3 linked regions of the Homo sapiens genome follow. The protein of the gene in region 2 interacts with the protein of the main gene of each other region in a pairwise test. Each region holds a gene or a part of one and is shown on either strand. Other genes may lie near its edges.

What was found. Proteins that work in one complex are often made in the same cells at the same time.
Region 1: the proteins of GRIPAP1 (region 2) and TCP10L interact in binary tests that used the Homo sapiens proteins (3 or more experiments, as listed by UniProt).
Region 3: the proteins of GRIPAP1 (region 2) and ING4 interact in binary tests that used the Homo sapiens proteins (3 or more experiments, as listed by UniProt).

The regions. Positions count from the first base shown.
Region 1 is NC_000021.9:32,582,523-32,590,491, reverse strand, and holds the start of TCP10L (T-complex protein 10A homolog 1), read left to right. Parts: upstream 1-4,968; 5' UTR 4,969-5,071; intron 5,072-6,186; 5' UTR 6,187-6,187; coding exon 6,188-6,331; intron 6,332-7,969. UniProt on the Homo sapiens protein: May be involved in transcriptional regulation. Has in vitro transcription inhibition activity. Acts as a tumor suppressor in hepatocellular carcinoma (HCC) cells.
Region 2 is NC_000023.11:48,999,257-49,006,649, reverse strand, and holds the start of GRIPAP1 (GRIP1-associated protein 1), read left to right. Parts: upstream 1-4,385; 5' UTR 4,386-4,420; coding exon 4,421-4,462; intron 4,463-7,145; coding exon 7,146-7,212; intron 7,213-7,350; coding exon 7,351-7,393. UniProt on the Homo sapiens protein: Regulates the endosomal recycling back to the neuronal plasma membrane, possibly by connecting early and late recycling endosomal domains and promoting segregation of recycling endosomes from early endosomal membranes.
Region 3 is NC_000012.12:6,653,119-6,660,140, reverse strand, and holds part of ING4 (inhibitor of growth protein 4), read left to right. Parts: intron 1-3,341; exon of another isoform or gene 3,342-3,342; coding exon 3,343-3,414; intron 3,415-4,227; exon of another isoform or gene 4,228-4,503; intron 4,504-6,744; coding exon 6,745-6,911; intron 6,912-7,022.

The sequences.
Region 1 (7,969 bases), on a different chromosome or scaffold from region 2:
TGAGAGCGCCTCGGCTCCTGGTCCCTTCCTGTCTTCAGGCAGAGTGAGCCTCTTCAAACCTCTCCCCTCCCTCCCTCCCTCCCTTCTTTCCTTCCTTCTTTCCTTCTTTCTCTCTCTCTCTTTCTTTCCTCTTTCTTTCTTTTTCTTTCTCTTTCTCCTTCCTTCCTCCCTCTCTCCCTCCCTACCTCTCTCTTTCTTTCTTTCTTTCTTCTTTCTCTTTCTTTCTTTCTTTATTTCTTTTTCCTTCTTTTTCAGACATTGTCTCACTCACTCACCCAGGCTGGAGTCCAGTGCCACAATCTCAGCTCACTGCGGCCTCTGCCTCCTGGGCTCAAGTGATCCTCCCACTCCAGTCTCCCGACTAGCTGATTTTGTCCCATGATTTTGTAGTATTTCAAGACCAGTATTATGAATATTAGTTTTCATTTTTCTGGCAACTATTTAGTTCTGGCTAACAGAGCACTGACTGGATAAGTATCAGGTCACAAAATATTTACCATGGGTTCATATGATGTGGTAAACTTGTGTCTTTCATGGGGGCTTTTAGCTAAAGCAGTAATTAGAGGTATTGTAAGATGAACCCCTTAGCTAATTGCAAGCTGTACCTGACGTCTCCCATGAAGACAAGCAGCCAGATCCTGAAATTCATGACTGATGACTTGTGAAAGTCTAACGCATATTCTGCAATGATGTGCCATGGGCCTCTGCCATTTCACCTCACCATCACGCCACAAATTAGTACTCACAGCTGAGAGTTTAGACCTAAAAGGGGCAATAAAATTGAGTTCAAATACTGTATTAAGGGACTTGCCCAAAATTACATAATTATTTTGTGTAAAGTCCAAATTATACAAATCCTCAGATTCCGAGGTCGGGGTTTCTTTTCCTGTAACATGTTCCTTCAAATATGGCTGTATCCATGTTTCATATCAAGCAGATCCGAGAAAAATTATGAATAATCAGATAGCATAATGTGGACACAGGGTCACGAGCAATAAAGGGTTCTTATAGAGCTATTAGGAAGAGCATGGTGCCTGCGAGCAGTAGGAAGATTGTTTTATGTATTTATTGGCCTTATAACTATGGTTTAGAAGTGGCAGGAACCCACAGAGGTATACCTACAGAAAGACTTAAAAGAAATAAAACTCCCAGCCTCAATGGGGTATCATGCCACCCTCAGTACCACTATCTCAATCTTAGGCTTCATACACATACCAAGAAACTTCCCACTTCTTTTAATACAAGAACTTTCAGATTTTAAAAATCTTCTCAGGATTCTCTCTCCTCTGTGACCTCTTCAGCAATGGTATTGGAAGTCATGGGTTGATGTTATCTGGCTGAGGGGTTTATCTAGAAATGTCTCCTGACTTCAGGTCTCTTTAGATGTAAGTTAGCTTCTTCCTCTGTCCGTACTCAGTCTCAGCTGGTCACTGACTATGTAATTTCCTTTCTAATCAGTTGGGTCCTACTGCAGAAACAAAATAACACAACGTAGAGTAAATACATTATTGGGATGGCTAGCAGTCATTGGGCATTTTTCTCTGTTCATTATCTTGAAGAGCATACTGTACTCCCTCAATTCATTTTAAACAAAAAAACTTTAGAATGTAATTAACGGAAATTCTCACTATTGTGGATTGAGTCGTTTTTATATGTTGCCTTACCACTTTGCTTAAAGGGGCAATGTCTTTCCTTATTCTCAACCTTTACGAAATATTGTACAGAGAACATTTTTAAAGAGTGTGTAATCCCAGCACTTTAAGAGGTTGAGACAGGTGGATCACTTGAGTCCAGAAGTTCGAGACCAGCCAGTGCAATATAGCGAGACCTGTCTCTACCAAAAATTCAAAAATTAGCTGGGTGTGGTGGTGTGAACCTGTAGTTCTAGCTACTAGGGAGGCTGAGGTGGGAGGATTGCTTGAGCCTAAGAGGTCAAGGTTGCAGTGAACCGAGATGGTGCCACTGCACTCCAGCCTAGGCAACAGAGCAAAACCTTGTCTCACAAGAAGAAGAAAAAAAAAAAAAGGAGTGTGTCACTTATAACATTCAGACTCAGCTCATAAAATCCAAAAGAAACATGGAGTTTTGAGTGTGCTGAAATGCACCACTGACGGGACAACTAGAAAATGAGTAGAAAATCTTTATCTGTTTTGTTTTTTTTTGAGATGGAGTCTCACTCTGCCGCCAGACTGGAGTGCAGTGGTGCCATCTTGGCTCACTGCAGCCTCCACCTCCCAGGTTCAACCAATTCTCCTGCCTCAGCCTCCCAAGTAGCTGGGACTACAGACGCGTGCCACCACACCCAGCTAATTTTTTTTATTTTTTTATTTTTAGCAGAGACAGGGTTTCACCATGTTGGCCAGGATGGTCTTGATCTCTTGACCTTGTGATCTGCCCACCTCAGCCTCCCAAAGTGCTGGGATTACAGGCGTGAGCCACCATGCCCGGCCGAAAATCTTTATCTTTTGGTTCTATCATTGTACACTACAGCTACTGGTAATAGTATTAAGGCATATTTTACAATTCATATTTGGATTCGATCACAGGGCTCACACTCTCTTATCTTCACCTCTCACAAGTTTTGCCATAAGAATTTTGTGGTAGTTTGAGGAACTCAACACAGCTGCAAGTATTTCGCTGGAATCTACTATGATCTGTGTCACTTGAGGCACAGAGTGAGCTCATGTCATTCTTTGGATGACATGCACCCCTCCCTAACTTATTCCGACATTTAGTCATCCAAGAATTCACTCAGCTCTGGTGGGGTGGGCTCCAATCTCAATGGCATCTCACCAGTTCCCAGGTCATATTGCCCATTTGCAGTGATGATATTTAGAAAAGGTGATTTCTTTTGTCAGGGTCTGTACCACTATAGAAGTAGTCCTTTGAACCAGAAATTTAAACACATAAGCTACTTTAAAAAGTGTATCTGCTGCTACTCCAAGCAGCCAGCTCAGGAACTGGCTTCTGATTTTAAAAGATGAGTGAAAGGTGTGCCGTGGTTTCCTCTACAGAATGTTCAGACCAGAGGGCCCTGGAAGACCATGCCTGAAATGCGGCTAAGGCACCGCGAGGCTGAACAGAAAACCGGGGCCTTATCAGAGAGAAGAGAAGGGCCCCACAGTCCAAACGCCCAGGAGCCTCCGCCCTGACCTGCTGCCGCACGTGGTTGCTGCAGGGTGAGAATCTGGGGAAGACTCAATGAAGAAAATGTCCTGGCCAGGCCGGGAAGAGCAACACACAGAGAGCCGCAGCAGAGACAGGGATGGGGGGACCCTGCCCTGGGAGCCGCCCGGCTGAGGCTCAGGAGGGGAGCTGCAAAGCCTGAAACCTACACAACCTCTCACACACTTCAGGACACACACAACCCCTCACGCACCTCAGGGACTCACACAACCTCTCACACACCTCAGGAAGCTACACAAACTCTCACACACCTCAGAAACCTACACAAACTCTCACACACCCCAGGGACTCACACAACCTCTCACACACCTCAGGACACACACAACCCCTCACATACCTCAGGAACCTACGCAAACTCTCACACACCTCAGGACACACACACAACCTCTCACACACCTCAGGACAAACACCCACTCACACACCCCAGGACCCAAGCACAACCCCTCACACACCTCAGGACACACACACAACCCCTCACACACCTCAGGAACCCATATAAGGAACCCACACACCTCAGGCTCATACACACAAGCCCTCACACACCTCAGGAATCCACACACAACCCCTCACACACCTCAGGGTCTCACACACAATGTTGACACACCTCAGGGTCTCATACACAAACCCTCACACACCTCAGGACCCACACAATTCATCACACTTCTCAGGACACACATAAAACCCCTCACACACCTCAGGGGCCCATACATAACCCCTCACACACCTCAGGACTCACACACAATCCTCTCACACACCTCAGGACTCACACAACCTCTCACACACCTTAGGACCCACACACAACCACTCACACACCTTAGGACCCACACACAACCTCTCACACACCTTAGGACCCACACACAACCACTCACACACCTTAGGACCCACACACAACCTCTCACACACCTCAGGGACCCACACACAACCACTCACACACCTCAGGACCCACACACACCTCATACACCTCAGGGACACACACAACCCCTCACATACCTCAGAAACCTATATAAACTCTCACACACTTCAGGACAAACATACAACCTCTCACGCACCTCAGGACACACACACACACACTCGCACACCTCAGGACACACACACACACTCTCACAGTTAGAATGACACATGGGGACAAAAGTGCCTTCTGTTTCCTCTTTGTAGTATTCTCTTCATTCATTCATGACGTCGGCATTTACTGCCTATTGCATGCGAATCGCTTGCAGAACTATCCAAGTGACACACGTCCCAAGCAGGCTCAGGTGAGCCCCAGGTGTATGTTGTCCACACGCAGCACCATGGATGAGAAGGACAGCCAGGGTTTAACAGGAATATCGACTCTTGCTTGCTCCTCATTCTCTTCTCTATCACAAAAATCACACGGACAATTCAGATGGAGATGCATTTAGTGAAATGATGAAACTTTGAATCCTGTCTCCTATTTAAACTCACATATATTATTTTCCCTTCATAAAAATGTTTTTTCTAGTAAATAATTTGATATCCGAAGAAAGTTTGTATTTCTCCAAGAATGTATGCTCAGAGAAATGAGCTCTTACTACACGTTGCGTATTGAAGACTGGATATAAAACACATGGTTTTTGTCAATTTGGAGGAGTAGTTTGACTCTCTCCAATGTCCTTTGTGGATGGATGGACTCCACTGACGATGAGCTTCTATATTAAGAATTGCAGGTTTGGGGATGTTTAATTATTATCTGAGCTGGTACAGTGGTGACGCTGAGTGAGACGTTCATGTCCCTTTAAGACAGAAAGTCCGTTGGAACTGTCCGCTGCTCTCTGGTCTCTGGATATGAGGCAGGAGGGCTTGGGGACAACTGTGGGGACATGGCCCAGATGATCTGATCCTGGCAGTAGTGACTGTTGGGGACCAGGTGAGGTGACGAGGTCTGGTGGTGGGGCTGAAGGAAAGGGTCTTCCCTGGACTGAGGGGGTCATGAGTTTGGGGCCGAGGACACTGGGGTGTCCCCTCAGAGGAGCAGGAAAGAAGGAGCTTTCTCAGGGCTGTGAGGACCGTGACCCCAGCCCACTTCCGCAGAAACATTCCCAGTCTCCGCGGGGAAGGAATGGCAGTGATCTGGTTACTGGTAGGTCTTGCTCTAGACCTTCGATTCGCTTCCATCAGGAGACTCTCTTTTAAATAGCATTTCTCCGATCACTGTGGTTAAACTGTTCCTTCTCACACAGTTAGAAGTTTATGAATTAAACAGTCGGGGTTTCGTTGGGGGCCACTGGCTTCCTAAAACGGACAGGGCAAGGCAGGGGTGGAGGCAGCTTTCAGAGACGACCCTGCAGGCTTGCAGGAAAGCTTTGCGTTTTTCTCTTTCGTTTTTGTTCTCTAATTGCTGTGAACTTCCTAGAACTGGCATAAATGCTGTACCTATAAAAAGGTGTTTCCTTTCCACATCTTCACCATGAATTCACAAATGTCACCCTGATGGTTCAAGACACATACTCAACACGGTGGAGGGTCTGCCTGTGCCCCTCCAGGTGGGTGCTGATTAAAGGGCTGAGAATTCCCTCGGTGTCTCATGCGACCCTCCACTCACACCTGCTCACACCCTGAGACCATTCCACTCACACCTGCTCATACCCCAAGACCATCGTGCTCACATCCGCTCACATCCATTCACATTCCGCTCATATCCTGCTCACAACCCACTCACATCCCACTCACACCGGCTCACACCCCACTCACACCCCTCTTTGGATGACTGGAGTGTGTTAGGTGTCAGGCTGATCTTCTAGGATCTAAAGCATTTTCCACGGAGGATGGTGGAGAGCCAGGTGTGGACAGCTCAGTCCCTCTGTCTGTGGTGTCCTTTCACCTGGTCAGCTTCGGGCCTGGGAATGTGCACATGACCCAGGGGGAGAAGGAGCGGCTGCGGGTCCTGCTCACCCTTAGTTTGGGGCTGGGGCCTTCAGCCCACACTGACGGGGTAGGAGGGCTGCATTCAAGTGTCCCCATAGCCCTTCCCTTCCCAACCAGGATGCTGGCAGGTCAACTCGAGGCCAGGGACCCCAAAGAGGGCACCCACCCAGAGGACCCGTGCCCAGGAGCTGGGGCTGTCATGGAGAAGACAGCTGTGGCAGCCGAGGTTCTCACGGAGGACTGCAACACTGGGGAGATGCCAGTGAGTTGAGCTCTGTGGGGACAGAGTTAGTCCCACCAGGCGGGACCCTGATTCCTGTCCCTGAGGCCCGTCATTGGACTTTCCCTTGCTGGACCCCTGTAGGAATGCACCACCCCGGGACACTGATTCTGTACTTCCTCTCCAAGGGGCATGTGGCTCTTTCCCCCTCTGCAACCGTATCTCTTGGTGGATGGGAGGCAGGGCAGGGAGTTAAAGAAAATATTAACATTCCAGCTTTTCTCCTCTAATCCAGGAGAAGGCACCAGACTTTAAAAACTTCATTAAAGAAAATCAGAAAGTTGACATGCCTCACATCATCCCAGCAAGTTTCCTGATTTTTACCATCTTCCTCATTGGACCCTGTTGGACAGTGCTTGCTGTCATTAAAGTCCCACGGGTCCCTGTGGCCAGGGCCACCCAGTGCAGGACTGTACCTTTATCACGATCCCACTTATTCTCAGAGCAAGGCTGGAGGCTCTACGATCCAGTGAAGGATCCCAGGGGAAGGCTAACATGTTAGGTTGAAAATGCAGTGGCTTCCATAATTTTTTTTTTTTTTTTTTTTTTTTTTTGAGACGGAGTCTCGCTCTGTCGCCCAGGCTGGAGTGCAGTGGCGGGATCTCGGCTCACTGCAAGCTCCGCCTCCCGGGTTCACGCCATTCTCCTGCCTCAGCCTCCCACGTAGCTGGGACTACAGGCGCCCGCCACTACGCCCGGCTAATTTTTTGTATTTTTAGTAGAGACGGGGTTTCACCGTGTTAGCCGGGATGGTCTCGATCTCCTGACCTCGTGATCCGCCCGCCTCGGCCTCCCAAAGTGCTGGGATTACAGGCGTGAGCCACCGCGCCCGGCCGGCTTCCATAATTTTTAAACTATTGACCATATATCCATGCCAGTACAGCCTTTGAGACCAGTCTGGCCAACATGGTAAAACCCTGTCTCTACTAACAATAGAAAAATTAGCCAGGTGTGGTGGCATGTGCCTGTAATCCCAACTACTCTGGATGCTGAGGCACCAGAGTTGCTTGAATCTGGGAAGTGGAGGTTGCAGTGAGCTGAGACTGCGCCACTGCACTCCAGCCTGGGTGACAGAGAAAGACACTGTCTCAAAAAAAAAAAAAAAAAAAAAAAAAAAAGGAAAAGAATGCCAGCCTCTTTTTGCTGTAGTAGTGTTTTAACAAAAAAATCATAATTCACTAACCATCTTTATCTGGTTATATTATGTGGACTAACTCATAATAAACACTACTTAATAAGAATAAAGCTATGGCCAGGCATGGTAGCTTATTCCTGTAATCCCAGCACTTTGGGAGGCCGAGGCAGGTGGATTGCTTGAGCCCAGGAGTTTGAGACCAGTCTGGGCAACATGGTGAACCCCCATCCCGAGTAAAAATACAAAAATTAGCGAAGTATGGTGGCACATGCCTGTAGTCCCAGCTATTTGGGAGGTCGAGACAGGAGGATCGCTTGAGCTCATCAAGTTGAAGCTTCAGTGAGCTGAGATCATGCCACTGCACTCCAGCCTGAGTGACTGAGTGAGACCCTGAAAAAAGAAAAGAAAAGAAAGAAAGAAAGGAAAGAAAGAAGAAAGAAAAAGGCTGTGGTAGTCCTGTTTATCTCATCGGGTGTCTTTTATTC
Region 2 (7,393 bases):
TTGGGAAGTTGAAATGGGAGGATGGCTTGAGCCCAGGAGTTCACGGCTGTAGTGTGCCATGATCATGCCTATAAATAGCCAGTGCAGTCCAGCTGGGGCAACATAGTGAGATCCTGTCTCTACCGAAAAAAAAAAAAGAGATACAATGATAGAGAAAACCTCATTTACAATAGCATCCATAGCATCAAAGAAAATAATTAGGAAGAAATCTAACAAGAAATGTGAAAAAAATCTATGTGTGGAACACTTTAAAATGCTTCTGTCAAAACCCATTGATCTTTACGATATAAAAAAAGTTTGTTAATGTATGCAAAATTTTAAAAAAAGCAACCAGGAGGTCAGGGAATCCAGTATGGAATGGAGACTGTGACAACATAATTTATATATTACAAATGTAGGCAAGGGCCGGGCACGGTGGCTCACGCCTGTAATCCCAGCACTTTGGGAGGCTGAGGTGGGCAGATCCCTTGCAGCCAGGAGTTTGAGACCAACCTGGCCAACATGGTGAAACCTGTCTCACCAAAAATACAAAAATTAGACGGGCATGGTGTCACGTGCCCATAATCCCAGCAACTTGGGAGGCTGAGGTAGGAGAATCGCTAGAACCTGGGAGGCAGAGGTTGCAGTAAGCCAAGATCGGGCCACTGAACTCCAGAGCGAGACTTCATCTCAAAAAATCACACACATACAAAAAAAAACCAAAAGTAGGCCTAGTGTGGTGGCTCACCCCTGAAATCTTAGCACTTTGGAAGGCAGATGTGGGTGGATCACTTGAGCCCAGGAGTTTGAGACCAGCCTGGGCAACATAGTAAGACTTGGTTTCTACAAAAAATTAAAAAAAAATTAGCTGGGCATGGTAGCCTGTGCCTGTAGTCCCAGCTACTTGGGAGGCTGAGGTAGGAGGACTGGTTGAGCCCAGAAGGTCGAGGCTGAAGTGAGCCGAGATTGCACCACTGCACTCCAGTCTGGATGACAGAGCGAGACCCTGTCTCAAAAAAAAAAAAAAAAAGAAAAAGAAAAGGAAAAGGCCGTGTGTGGTAGCTTAGCTCACGTCTTTAATCCCAGCACTTTGGGAGGCCGAGGCGGGTGGATCACCTGAGGTCAGGAGATCGAGACCAGGCTGGCCAACATGGTGAAACCCCATTTCTACTAAAAATACAAACGTGGTGGTGGGTGCCTGTAATCCCAACTACTCGTGAGGCTGAGGCAGGAGAATCGCTTGAACCCGGGAGGCAGAGGTTGTGGTGAGCCAAGATCACGCCATTGCACTCCAGCCTGGGCGACAAGAGCAAAACTCCGTACACCCTCACCCAAAAAAGTTGTTAATATTCCTAATATGCAAAGAGGCCAGGTGCGGTTGTGCACACCTGTAACCCCAGCACTTTGAGAGGCAGAGGCGGGAGGATAACTTGAGGTCAGGAGTTTGAGACCAACCTGGCCAACATGGTGAAACCCCGTCTCTACTAAAAATACAAAAATTAGCTGGGCATGATGGTGGGTGCCTGTAGTCCCAACTACTTGGGAGGCTGAGGCAGGAGAATCTCTTGAACCCGGGAGGCAGAGATTGCAGTGAGCCGAGATTGCACCACTGCACTCCAACCTGGGCAACAGAGGGAGACTCTGTCTCAAAAGAAAAATAATAATTAAATTAAAAAAATAAAATAAGAACAGATATTAAAATGATTCTTGGTGGCATATGTCTGTAGTCCCAGCTACTTGGGGGGCTGAGGTGGGAGAATTGCTTGAGCCCAGGAAGTCAAGGCAGCAGTGAGCCCTGATTGTGCCACTACACTCCTGCGTGGGCGGTAGAGCAAGACCCTGTCTCAAAATAAAATAAAATGAAATAAAATAAGTTCGGGCACGGTGGCTCATGCCTGTAATCCCAGCACTTTGGGAGGCCGAGGCAGGTGGATCGCCTGAGGTCAGGAGTTCAAGACCAGCCTGACCAATGTGGTAAAACCCTGTCTCTACTAAAAATACAAAAATTAGTCGGGCATGGTGGCAGGCGCCTGTAATCCCACCTACTTGGGAGGCTGAGGCAGGAGAATTGCTTGAACCTGGGAGGCGGAGGTTGCAGTGAGCTGAGATCGCGCCAATGCACTCCAGCCTGGGCAACAAGAGTGAAACTCCGTCTCAAAAAAACAAATAAATAAAAATTAAAAATAAAATAAACATAGGACAAGGTGGTGAATCTCACTCATAATAAGAGAAACACAAATTAAAACTACACTAAGAGAATGGATAAACAAATTGTGGTATAGTCATACTATGGATTTTGTTTTGTTTTGTTTTGTTTTTGAGACAGAGTTTTCCCCTCTATCGCTAAGGCTGGAGTGCAGTGGCACGATCTCGGCTCACTGCACCCTCCACCTCTTGGGTTCAAGCGATTCTCATGCCTCAGCCTCCTGAGTAGCTGTGATTACAGGCGTGTACCATCACTCCTAGCTTATTTTTGTATTTTTAGTACAGATGTGGTTTCACCATGCTGGCTGGGCTGGTCTTGCACTCCTGACCTCAGGTGATACACCTGCCTCGGCCTCCCAAAGTGCTGGGATTACAGGCGTGAGCCACTGAGCCCGCCCGGCCCATACTATGGAATTTTACTAGTCAATAAAAAGAAAAAAAGATACTTATACACGAAACAACTTGGATGAATCTCAAAAGGATTATGATGAGTGAAAGAAGCCAGACAGAAAAGGATACATCCTGTCTCATTCTATTTGCATGAAACTCTGCAAGAGAAATGTAATCCAGTAACAGGAAGCCAATCATTGGTTACCTGGGATAGGGGGTGGGGTTTGGGATAGGATACAAAGAAATCAATGTTCCCTATCTTGCTTGTGATGGTGGTTACAAGGTTGTATACATTAGACAAAGCTCACTAAATTGTACCCTTAAAATGGGTGCATTTATGTATATAGACAGATCAATAGCGTTATCTTTCAATAAAGTCAATTAAATCAAGAAAGAAATCAAAGAGTCCTGGCTGGCAATACTTTTCTTTTTCTTTCTTTTCTTGGAGACAGAGTCTCGCTCTATCCCCCAGGCTGGAGTGTAGTGGTGCGATCTCGGCTCACCGCAACCTCTGCCTGGCGGGTTCAAGCGATTCTCGTGCCTCAGCCTTCCGAGTAGCTGGGATTACAGGCGCCCACCACCACACCCGGCCAATTTTTGTGTTTTTAGTAGAGATGGGGTTTCACCATGTTGGCCAGGTTAGTCTCGAACTCCTGACCGCAAGTGAACAGCCCTCCTTGGCCTCCCAAAGTGCTGGGATTACAGGCGTGAGCCACCGCGCCCGGCCCTGCTGGAAATATTTTTCCACAGCAGGGAAATCATTAAATTCTACGAAAATAAGAAGGCTGGGCGCGGTGGCTCACGCCTTAATCCCAGCACTCTGGGAGGCCGAGGCGGGCGGACTACCTGAGGTCGGGAGTTCGAGACCGGCCTGACCAATATGGAGAAACCCCGTCTCTACTAAAAAAAAAAAAAAAAATTACCCGGACGAGGTGGCGGGCGCCTGTAATCCCAGCTACTCGGGAGGCTGAGGCAGGAGAATCGCTTGAACTCGCCAAGCGGAGGTTGCTGTGATCGGATATCGTGCCACTGCACTCCAGCCTGGGCAACAAAAGTGAAACTCCGTCTCAAAAAAGAAAAACAACAACAACAACAACAACAAAAACAGAAAGAAAAAAGAAAATAAGAAAAAAACTACACTGAGATACCATTTCTTACTCTCAGATCGGTGAGGGTTATAGTGAATTCTAATACTTGAATGAGCCTGGTGTTTCACCACCCTGGTTTGTTTTTTGTTTTTGTTTTGTTTTAATGTAGCTTTTTCGTTTGATTCACTGTCACTCTTTCCACTCTGCTATTTTTATTGGTGGCTAAGTCCTTTACCTAACGTGACATGCAGTATCATGATAACAAAATAAGTGTCAAACCTTAAAAAAAAAAAAAAAAAAAAAGGCCAAAGGCTTTACAAGAGGTGGGATTCCCCTTTGGGGTCTCCCGGAGGAGGGGCGGGAACAAGACCAGAGCGAAGCTTCCGCTTTCATTTCTATGGTTATTAAGTTACCCATTCTCATTAAAGGAATACCGCGGAAGGGTGATTTTCTGTCGGCAAAGACTTCCCTAGCGACGAGTCCACCCATGAAACGGGGATGTAATAATGTCGTATCACAATGGGTGGCCTAGAAGAGTCCAAAAGCCAATCAGATGACTTACATTCGGGTAGAACGTTGTATTACAGTTCACCTGACTCGTCGGTTTCGTTCTCTTCTCTGCGTCTCCAAAATGCTGCCCTTCGGAATTAGGTTCTACCCCCTCCATTCCTGGCCAGTGGTTTGGTCCGACCTTAATACTGCCAGGAGGCGCGAGCTGCGTCTGCGCAGAAAGCTGGCGGGGGGGTGGGGGGAGGAACATGGCGCAAGCTCTGTCTGAGGAGGAGTTTCAGCGGATGCAGGTGCCGCTCGCGGTGGGAAAGACCACCCGGCTAGGCGACCGGGGGCGGGGTAGCGAGAGGTCGTGCTATCAGCTCTGAGAAGGGGTTGGTTGGGATGGACCCTGAGTTTATGGGGTGGGTCTGGAGAAGGGAAACTGAGGCTCGGAGTGGTGAGACTATTGGATTCCGAGATACTCTGCGGCTTTGAAGGTTGGACTCTGTTAGCATTGTGGGCTGGGAGAGCGCCATTAAGTAGGCGGTACCTTACTCAGACCTGGAGGGGACGAGACTTTTGGGCCCGTGCAGGGGACACCGTCGGCGGGTGATGATAATGGGCTTTGAGGGAAGGAGATCCTGAGAAGGCGAAACCATTTTGTCTGGAGAGGAAGGAAGCGGGTGTTGGGTCGTTTGCGTCATGGTGGTGGGAGCCCTTGAGAGGGCAGAACCATTAGCGGGTGGGAGGTGGTAAGTTTTGGGGGAGATACCACTGTGCCCGGGGATTGGGGAAAGACCCCAGATGTTGTCATTGTTCCTGGGAGGTGGAGATCCTGTGCCATTGGTGGTTGGTAGTGCATCCTAAGAGGGGGCGGCACCATTGGATGATTAAGGGTGATCCCATTAGGCCTGGGGTGAAGAAGGCCATGAATGGGTAATACCATTAATCCCATTAACTGGGGGGAGGACCAGAGGGGTAAAAGATTGATACCTTGGACTACAAGGAGGGAAGATCACTGGGCTTTGGGGAGGTACCCCCACTTGATTCTTTTGGGGGGACTCTGAGATGCAATGAAAGGCCATAGCATTGCACTATGAATGGGCCCTTGTTGAGAGGGTTCCTCACTGGGGGGGGGGTCTGAACAGGGTCCTGCATGGGGAGGGGAGGAACTCTGAGGGAGGACAGGTAATCCAATTGGTCCTTGAATGAGGGAAACCAGCTGTCCCTGTGTGAGGGACACTGAGAATGGAAGGGCGAGTTGATTAACCCATGAATGGGGAAGACCACTGTCATCTGAAAGGGATTCTAAGTGAGTAAGAGTCATCCAACTGGCCTACCCAAGGCCTTGTAGAGGCCTACCCTGAAGGGTGTAGGGCCATTCCCAATGGATCATGACTGGGGAGATCTTGAGGGGAGTGGGAATACCCTTGAATGAGGAACATTGATCCCACTGGGCCATGAATGAGGGAGAACTACTGGGCTTTGTTGGGGGGCAAGTCTCGGGGGGTACAAAGGATATTCCACTTGGACCAGTACTTGGAGAGACAGATCACTGGGTCCTGGAGAGGACAGGAGTAGGAAAGATTCTGTGAAGGCCAAGCCCTCTGACCTTGAGCAGACTACCAGAGAACAGTGAGTGGAGGCTGGTGGCGTGGGAGGGAGGGAAAAGTCCTGGTAGGGGAAGGAACAGTAAGTTCCTTAATGGGAAGGAACCGGCCTTGCTGGGTAGAACCAGCCTCAGGGTCCTATAGGGCTGGTAGGGAGGAGGATGCTTAATTCTTTTTCTTTTTCTTTTTTTTTGAGACAGAGTCTTTCTCTGTCACCCAGGCTATAGTGTGCAGTGGCACGATCTCAGCTCACTGCAACCTCCACCTCCCGGGTTCAAGTGATTCTCCTATCTCAGCTTCCCTAGTAGCTGGGATTACAGGTGCGTACCACCACGCCCAGCTAATTTTTGTATTTTTAGTAGAGATGAGGTTTCACCATGTTGGCCAGGCTGGTCTTGAACTCCTGACCTCAAGTGATCTGCCCACTTTGGCCTCCGAAAGTGTTTGGATTACAGGTGTCAGCCACTGCGCCTGGCACTTTCCCTTAATTCTTTTTTTTTTTTTTTTTTTTTTTTTTTTTTGAGACAGAGTCTCACTCTGTCACCCAGGCTGGAGTGCAGTGGCACAATCTCGGCTCACTGCAACCTCCACCTCCCAGGTTCAAGCGATTCTCCTGCCTCAGCCTCCCGAGTAGCTGGGACTACAGGTGTGCGCCACCACACCCGGCTAATTTTTTATATTTTTAGTGGAGACGGGGTTTCACCATATTGGGCAGGCTGATTTTGAATTCCTTACCTCGTGACCCACCCGCCTTGGCCTCCCAAAGTGCTGGGATGACAGGTGTGAGCCACCGCACCTGGTCCTCCCTTAATTATTGAAGGGGGCCTGGATGTATTTTGAGAGCCTTGGAGGTGGGGGGACCCTGGAAAGCCCCCTGACTCAATGAAAGTTGGGCAGAATACTTGACCCTTTTCCCTTAGGAAAGAGGGAGGAAGACAGGCCCTTAACCCCCTGCCATCAGAGGCCCCCAGGTCTGGTCAGAAATATGGACAACACCCCTGACAGTGTGTGTTCAGTGTGTGGAGAGGTCAGCCAGGATGAGGAGGAGGAACTTTATCCTGTGGGCATGGAGAGCCAGGGAACTCACACAAGCAAGACCCTGACTGGGGGCAGTGCTCTGGGATGGCCTGAGTGCAGCGTGGATTGTAGTGTGAGATGGAGGGGTGAGGCTGGCTGGGGTTATAAGTGGAGCTGGAAAAGGTGAGCCAGGGTCTGAGGGCCTGGAAGGTCACTTTGGGTGTAGCACATACAGGTCTTAAGGAGTAGCTACAGAGGCACATGGAGGGCGTAAGGTCTGTGGAGCTTAGGGGCTTGGTTCCCTCATGGTAGGGGTAGGGGCGCTTTCCTGACCAAGTCTTTTCCCTTCCTGCCTCCCCCAAAGGCTCAGCTCCTGGAACTCCGGACAAACAACTACCAGCTTTCAGATGAACTACGCAAGAATGGTGTTGGTGAGCCAGGAGGGCCTTATTAGATGGGGGTGGCTTTGGGGAATGGTGTCCGAGGTTTTCCCTCAGAGGCCTGGCAGGAAGGCCTTTCAGTTTCTTGCCACTGGCTGAGGCTGAGTTTCCCTGCTTTCCCGACACCAGAACTCACCAGTCTTCGACAGAAGGTCGCCTACTTGGATAAGGA
Region 3 (7,022 bases), on a different chromosome or scaffold from region 2:
CAAGAGATTTCTCTTGTACTGGGGTGACAAATATTCATGCATTTATTCAAGTATTTACTGAGTACCTGCTCTTTGCAAGTCATAATTCTAAACACTATGGAAACAGGAGAGAATATGATAGCCATGTTCGGCCTGGGGAGACAGATACCAAATAACTAATTACACATTATTTTTTTTAATTTTTTTGTTTTTTGAAACAGTCTTGCTCTTTTGCCCGGGCTGCAACCTCTACCTCCCTGGTTCAAGCAATTGTCCTGCCTCAGTCTCTTGAGTAACTGGAACTACAGCCACAGGCCACCATGCCCATCTATTTTTTTTTTTTTTTTTTGAGACAGAGTCTCGCTCTGTCGCCCAGGCTGGAGTGCAGTGGAGCGATCTCGGCTCACTGAAAGCTCCACCTCCTGGATGCACGCCACTCTCCTGCCTCAGCCTCCCGAGTAGCTGGGACTACAGGCGCCCGCCACCACGGCCAGCTAATTTTTTTGTATTTTTAGTAGAGACGGGGTTTCACCATGTTAGCCAGGATGGTCTCAATCTCCTGACCTCGTAATCTGCTCTCCTCGGCCACCCAAAGTGCCGGGATTACAGGTGTGAGCCACCGCGCCTGGCCTAATTTTTGTTTTGTTTTGTTTTTGAGATGGAGTCGCACTCTGTCACCCAGGCTGAAGTGCAGTGGTGCGATCTCAGCTCACTGCAACCTCCACCTCCCGGATTTAAGCAATTCTTGTGCCTCAGCCTCCCAAGTATCTGGGATTACAGGTTTCACCATGTTGGCCAGGCTGGTCTTGAACTCCTGGCTTCAAGTGAGCCACCCGCCTCGGCCTCCCAAAGTGCTAGAATTACAGGCATGAGCCACCGTGCCTGGCCCTAATTTTTGTATTTTTAGTAGAGATGGGGTTTTGCCAGGCTGCCAAGGCTGGTCTTGAACTCCTGGCCTTGAGTGATCCACCTGCCTTCCAGAGTGCTGGATTACAGGCATGGGCCACCGCACCCAGCCAACTAATTACACATTTATTTAATTACAGTTGGATAAGTGCTTTAAAAAGGTGGCTAGAATACCTTGACATAGATCGAGGGCAGTTAACAGAGTCTGGGAAAGTTGAGTTTGAGCTGAACTTTGGAAGAACGAACAGGAATTTAATAGGCCAAGAGGGATGGGGTGGATGGGATGAGGAAAAGCGAGCGGTGCATTCCAACTAGAGAGAACAGCATGTGGAAAGCCAAATGGCAGGAGGAGCACAGGCCAGTTTGAGGCAGTGCGAGGAGGCCAGTATGGGCAAAGCAGAGCACAAAGGGAGACTGACATGAGTTCAGGCTGGTGTGAGGTAAGCAAGGGCCAGAAAGCGCAGAACATCTTCAGAGCAGTAGGAAGTGACCAGAAGGTTATAAGCGGGAGAGTGACTTGATTAGGTTTGCATTTTTTATTTTTGTGTTTGTTTTTGTTTTTGTTTTTTTGAGTCAGTGTCTTGCTCTGTCATCCAGGCTGGAGTGCATTGGCGTGATCTCGGCTCACTGAAATGTCCACCTCCCAGGTTCAAGGGATTTTTGTGCCCCAGCCTCCCAAGTAGCTGGGATTACAGGCATGTGCACCAAGCCTGGCTAAGTTTTTGTATTTTTGGTAGAGACAGAGTTTCACCATGTTGCCCAGGCTGGTCTTGAACTCCTCAGCTCAGCTGATGCGCCCACCTGGGCCTCCCAAAGTGCTGGGATTACAGGCATGAGCCACCGTGCCTGGCCAGGTTTGCATTTTTTAAAAAGGACATTCTGGCTACTATATGGAAGTAGATTGGAAGTGTTATGTGTATAATAGAGGATACCAGGAGACTATTTGTAATTTGAGGACAAAGAGCTTGGAGGCAGAGATGGAAAATAAAAGAAAGGGGCCCGTCTTAGTGGCTCATGCCAGTAATCCCAGCACTTTGGGAGATCAAGGCGGGCGGATCACCTGAGGCCAGGAGTTCAAGACCAGTCTGGCCAAAATGGTGAAACCCTGTGTCTACTAAAAATACAAAAATTAGTCGGGTGTGGTGGCGCGCGCCTGTGGTCCCAGCTACTCCAGAGGCTGAGGCAGGAGAATCACTTGAACCCAGGAGGTGGAGGCTGCAGTGAGCCAAGATCGTGCCACTGCACTCCAGCCTGGGCAACAGAGCCAGACTCCGTCTCAAAAAACAAAAAAGGAAAAGAAAGGGAAGAGCTTTTTTTTTTTTTTTTGGAGACAGAGTCTCGCTCTGTCACCAGGCTGGAGTGCAGTAGTGCAGTCTTGGCTCACTGCAACCTCTGCCTCCCAGGTTCAAGTGATTCTCCTGCCTCAGCCTCCTGAATAGCTGGGATTACAGGTACGTGCCACCACACCTGGCTAATTTTTATATTTTTAGTAGAAACAGGCTTTCACCATGTTGGCCAGGCTGGTCTCGAACTCCTGACCTCGTGATCCACCCGCCTCAACCTCCCAAAGTGCTGGGATTACAGGCTTGAGCCACCACACCTGACGGGAAGAGCTTATTTATAAAGGAAGGTCACTGAAGGCGAAAAGGGTGGGATAGCCATGCAGAAATGGAAAGGTTTTGTAGAGAAAGAGTTAAGCATGGCCTGTCATGAGAGAACTGATCCATCCTGTCACAGATAAATCCAGAGGTTCAGAGGAAGGAAAACTGAGCTGCACTTTATTTTTTGTTTGTTTGTTTGTTTGTTTGAGATGGAGTCTCACTGTGTCGCCCAGGCTGGAGTGCAGTGGTGCGATCTCGGCTCACTGCAAACTCCGCCTCCCAGGTTCATGCCATTCTCCTGCCTCAGCCTCCTGAGTAGCTGGGAGTACAGGCGCCCGCCATCGCACCTGGCTAATTTTTTGTATTTTTAGTAGAGACGGGGTTTCACCATGTTAGCCAGGATGGTCTCAATCTCCTGACCTCGTGATCTGCTCTCCTCGGCCTCCCAAAGTGCTGGGATTACAGGTGTGAGCCACCATGCCTGGCCATTTGTTTGTTTTTGAGACAGGGACTTGCTCTATTGCCCAGGCTGGAGTGCAGTGGCTCAATCACGGCTCACTGCAACCTCTGCCTCCTGGATTCAAGTGATTCTCATGCCTCAGCCTCCCAAGTAGCTGGGATTAGAGATGCCCACCGTCACACTAGGCTAATTTTCATATTTTTAATAGAGATGGAGGTCTCGCCATGTTGGCCAGGCTGGTCTTGAACTCCTGGCCTTGAGTGATCCACCCCCTTGGCCTCCCAAAGTGCTGGGATTGCAGGCGTGAGCCACCATGTCCGGCCTGAACTGCACTTTAAAAGGAGCTGTAAGGCCTATGCATAGTCAGTCCTGTGATTGTTTCTCTCTCTTCCCTAGGTATTGAAAACCTTCCCTTTGAATTACAGAGAAACTTTCAGCTCATGAGGGACCTAGACCAAAGAACAGAGGGTATGTATAGAGTAAAAAGTTTTTGTATCTAATGAGTGTGTGTAATCATTTATTTTTCTACTTGATGTTACCGTATCATCTGGTATGATCTGGAGAACTGTGGCTTCTCTCGCTCCTTTTTTACGCTCTTGGAATTCTTAAAACAGGATAATGATCCTCATTTCTGTGTCAGCTTTTTCATAACAAATAGAGTATTGTGAAAACGCCTCAAGAATTCAAAGATGCTGTGTTCTTTATGTCTTCCTGGAGAATAATTAGCCAGGCTGGCTCACACCTGTAATCCCAGCACTTTGGGAGGCCTAGGCGGGCAGGTAACTTGAGGCCAGGAGTTTGAGATCAGCCTGGCCACATGGTGAAACCCCATCTCTACTAAAAATACAAAAACTAGCCAGGTGTGGTGGCACGCACCAGTAATCCCAGCTACTTGGGAGGCTGAGACGTGAGAATCGTTTGAACCTGGGAGGTGGAGGTTGTAGTGAGCCCAAATCATGCCACATGTCACTGCACTCCAGCCTAGGCAACAGAGCAAGACTCTGTCTCAAAAAAAAAAAAAAAGAAGAATTAAAGAAAGTCAACTCGAGTCATTTCTGCTCTCCACGTTTGATATATTTATAGGATGACTAGAATGTTTCTACTTCTCTCATTGTTAATGTTACTGTCACAAATTCCCAGTGTGACTTTAGACTGCAACATATGTTGGTAGATGGGAGGTTTGCTATATGAGAAGTCCTTAAAAAGAGAAAGAAAAAAGAAAGAGGAAAGAAAAAAAAGCAGTAATTGACAATGGGATCTCTATACCGTTCACACTTACAGAAGCATTAGATACCATCTCCAGCCTGGAACATTGAGCAAATTTGGCTGCATTGGGGCATTCACTTGGTTTCTTCAAAGATGTCTGTTGGAGCTATTCCCATACCCACTGAAGGATCTGTAGTCTTGTCTTCATTCTATGTAGCCATGTTCAAGGATGTAACAGACTGGTTTTGAGATACATGAAGCTGTGTCTTAAGTTACTCTGAGTTTACACATGAAAAGGTGAACATCATCAAAAACCCTGGACACAGTTCCCTGAGAACTGCCTGCCGAATGGTGAGAACCAGATTGCTTTTTTTGTAATACAGTTGTAACTCTTGAGTTCATGCATGGAAAGACAGTTGGAGATTATGGAACTATATGCTTTTTCAGCTTCTTCCAAGAGCCTGGAATGAAGTGGAGTATAAACAGTGTCTTCACAGATCCTCCTGGTTATCTGTTGCTGCACTATGTTAGAGTCAGACTTGTCTCTTACTACTGACATATTTATGAGCCCTTCCAAATATTAGTAAACATCTATAGTCTCAATGTCCTGGGACATTACCATTCTTCCAATATTAAAACATTTGGGGCCGGGTGCGGTGGCTTACGCCTGTAATCCCAGCACTTTGGGAGGCAGAGGCGGGTGAGTCTCCTGAGATAAGGAGTTTGAGATCAGCCTGGCCCATATGGTGAAACCCTGTCTCTGCTAAAAATACAAAAATTAGTCGGGTGTGGTGGCGCATGCCAGTAATCCCAGCTACTCAGGAGGCTGATGCAGGAGAATCGCTTGAACCTGGGAGGTGGAGGTTGCAGTGAGCTGAAATCACACTACTGCACTCCAGCCTGGGCAACACAGTGAGACTTGGTCTCAAAAAAAAATAAATAAAATAAAATAAAACATCTGGGAGACCGGGTGCCGTGGCTCATGTCTGTAATCCCAGTACTTTGGGAGGCCGAGGCGGGCAGATCACTTGAGATCAGAACTTCGAGACCAGCCTGGCCAACATGGTGAAACCACATCTCTACTAAAAATGCAAAAATTAGCCAGATGTGGTGGCGCACACCTGTAGTCCCAGCTACTTGGGAGACTGAGGCACGAGAATCCCTTGAACCCACGAGGCAGAGGTTGAGGTGAGCCAAGATCGTGCCACTGCACACCAGCCTGGGCAACAGAGCGTGACTCCGTCTCAAAACAAAAAAACGTGTTTGGAGCAATATCTAGGATGGACAAACAGGAAAAAAAGAAGTAATGGAAAATGAAAGAAGTTGCAATGATGAGCCAAATAGGATGGGCAGCCTGGCTGCAGTGGCTCACACCTGGAATCCCAACACTTTGGGAGGCTGAGGCAGGTGGATCATTTGACCAGGAGTTCAAGACCAGCCTGGGCAATATAGTGAGACCTCATCTCTAGAAATAATTTTTTTAAAAAAATTATCAGGGTGTAGTGGCATGTGCCTGTGGTCCCAGCTACTCCAGAGGCTGAAATGGGAGATCATTTGAGCTCAGAGGTTGAGGCTGCAGTGTGATCCATGATCATGCCACTGCACTCCATCCAACCTGGGCAATAGAGTGAGACCCTGTCTCAAAAAAAAAAAAAAAGAAAAATAGAGTGAGCAGTAAGATAAGCAGAATTGTTACATGGATGTTGGAGTAAGGTCTAATTTTAAATTGTGTGATATACTCAACTACTCAGGAGGCGAAAAGATAGAATCACTTGAGGACAGGAGTTGGAGGTCAGCCTAGGCAACAAACATAAGAGAGAACCTGCGCCTGCCTCTAAAAATAAATAGATTAGGCCAGGCATGGTAGCTCACCCCCAATAATCCCAGCACTTTGGGAGGCTGAAGCAGGCAGATTGCTTGACCCAGGAGTTCGAGACCAGCCTGGGTAACGTGGAAAAAGCCTGTCTCTACAAAAAAATAGAAAAAATTAGCCAGGCGTGGTGGTGCCTGAGATGGGAGGATCACCAGAGCTCAGGAAGTTGAGGCTGCAGTGAGCCATGATTGTGCCACTGCACTCCAGCCTGGGCGACAAAGTGAGACCCTGTGTCAAAAAGAAAAAATACTAATAATTTTGAAATGTATGATATTGATGTACAGACTTGGAAACCAGCAACAGCAGATGACTCAGCCTGATTTGCGGCAGACAACTGCTGTGGGATGTTTTTGAGAAGGAAACAATGGCTTTTGAGACAAAATTCAAGAAGCAGCAAGCCCTTCAAAGAAGCATCTTCAAACATGGACAAAAATACACTTCATATTAATGTGGTGTGCAAAGGATCCCTTGCTGTGTTTCAGTAATTTAAATTCCAACTATGATAGCAATGTTTTCAGCACCTTGAAAGGACCTTTAAAGCAAATATTGTCAGTATGTTCCATTACTTGAGTGCATGGCACAGTACCTCTGAACATTCAGTACTTTTTAGTTGGAAGGTTATGCTAATCAATGGAAAAGGTCCAAAGAACAAAAGGAAGAAATGTGTTTCACCTAGCCACTCAGGGGCCATTGTGACCAGGCCTCTGTCTCTGTTGTAGACCTGAAGGCTGAAATTGACAAGTTGGCCACTGAGTATATGAGTAGTGCCCGCAGCCTGAGCTCCGAGGAAAAATTGGCCCTTCTCAAACAGATCCAGGAAGCCTATGGCAAGTGCAAGGAATTTGGTGACGACAAGGTGCAGCTTGCCATGCAGACCTATGAGATGGTATGGCCCTGTTCATGGCTCCCCACCTACTTCCCATCTAATCCTCAGGGTCTTAGACCCCTCCTTCAACTGTGTTGGGATCTGTTTGGGGTCTGTGAGATCCATAAACTC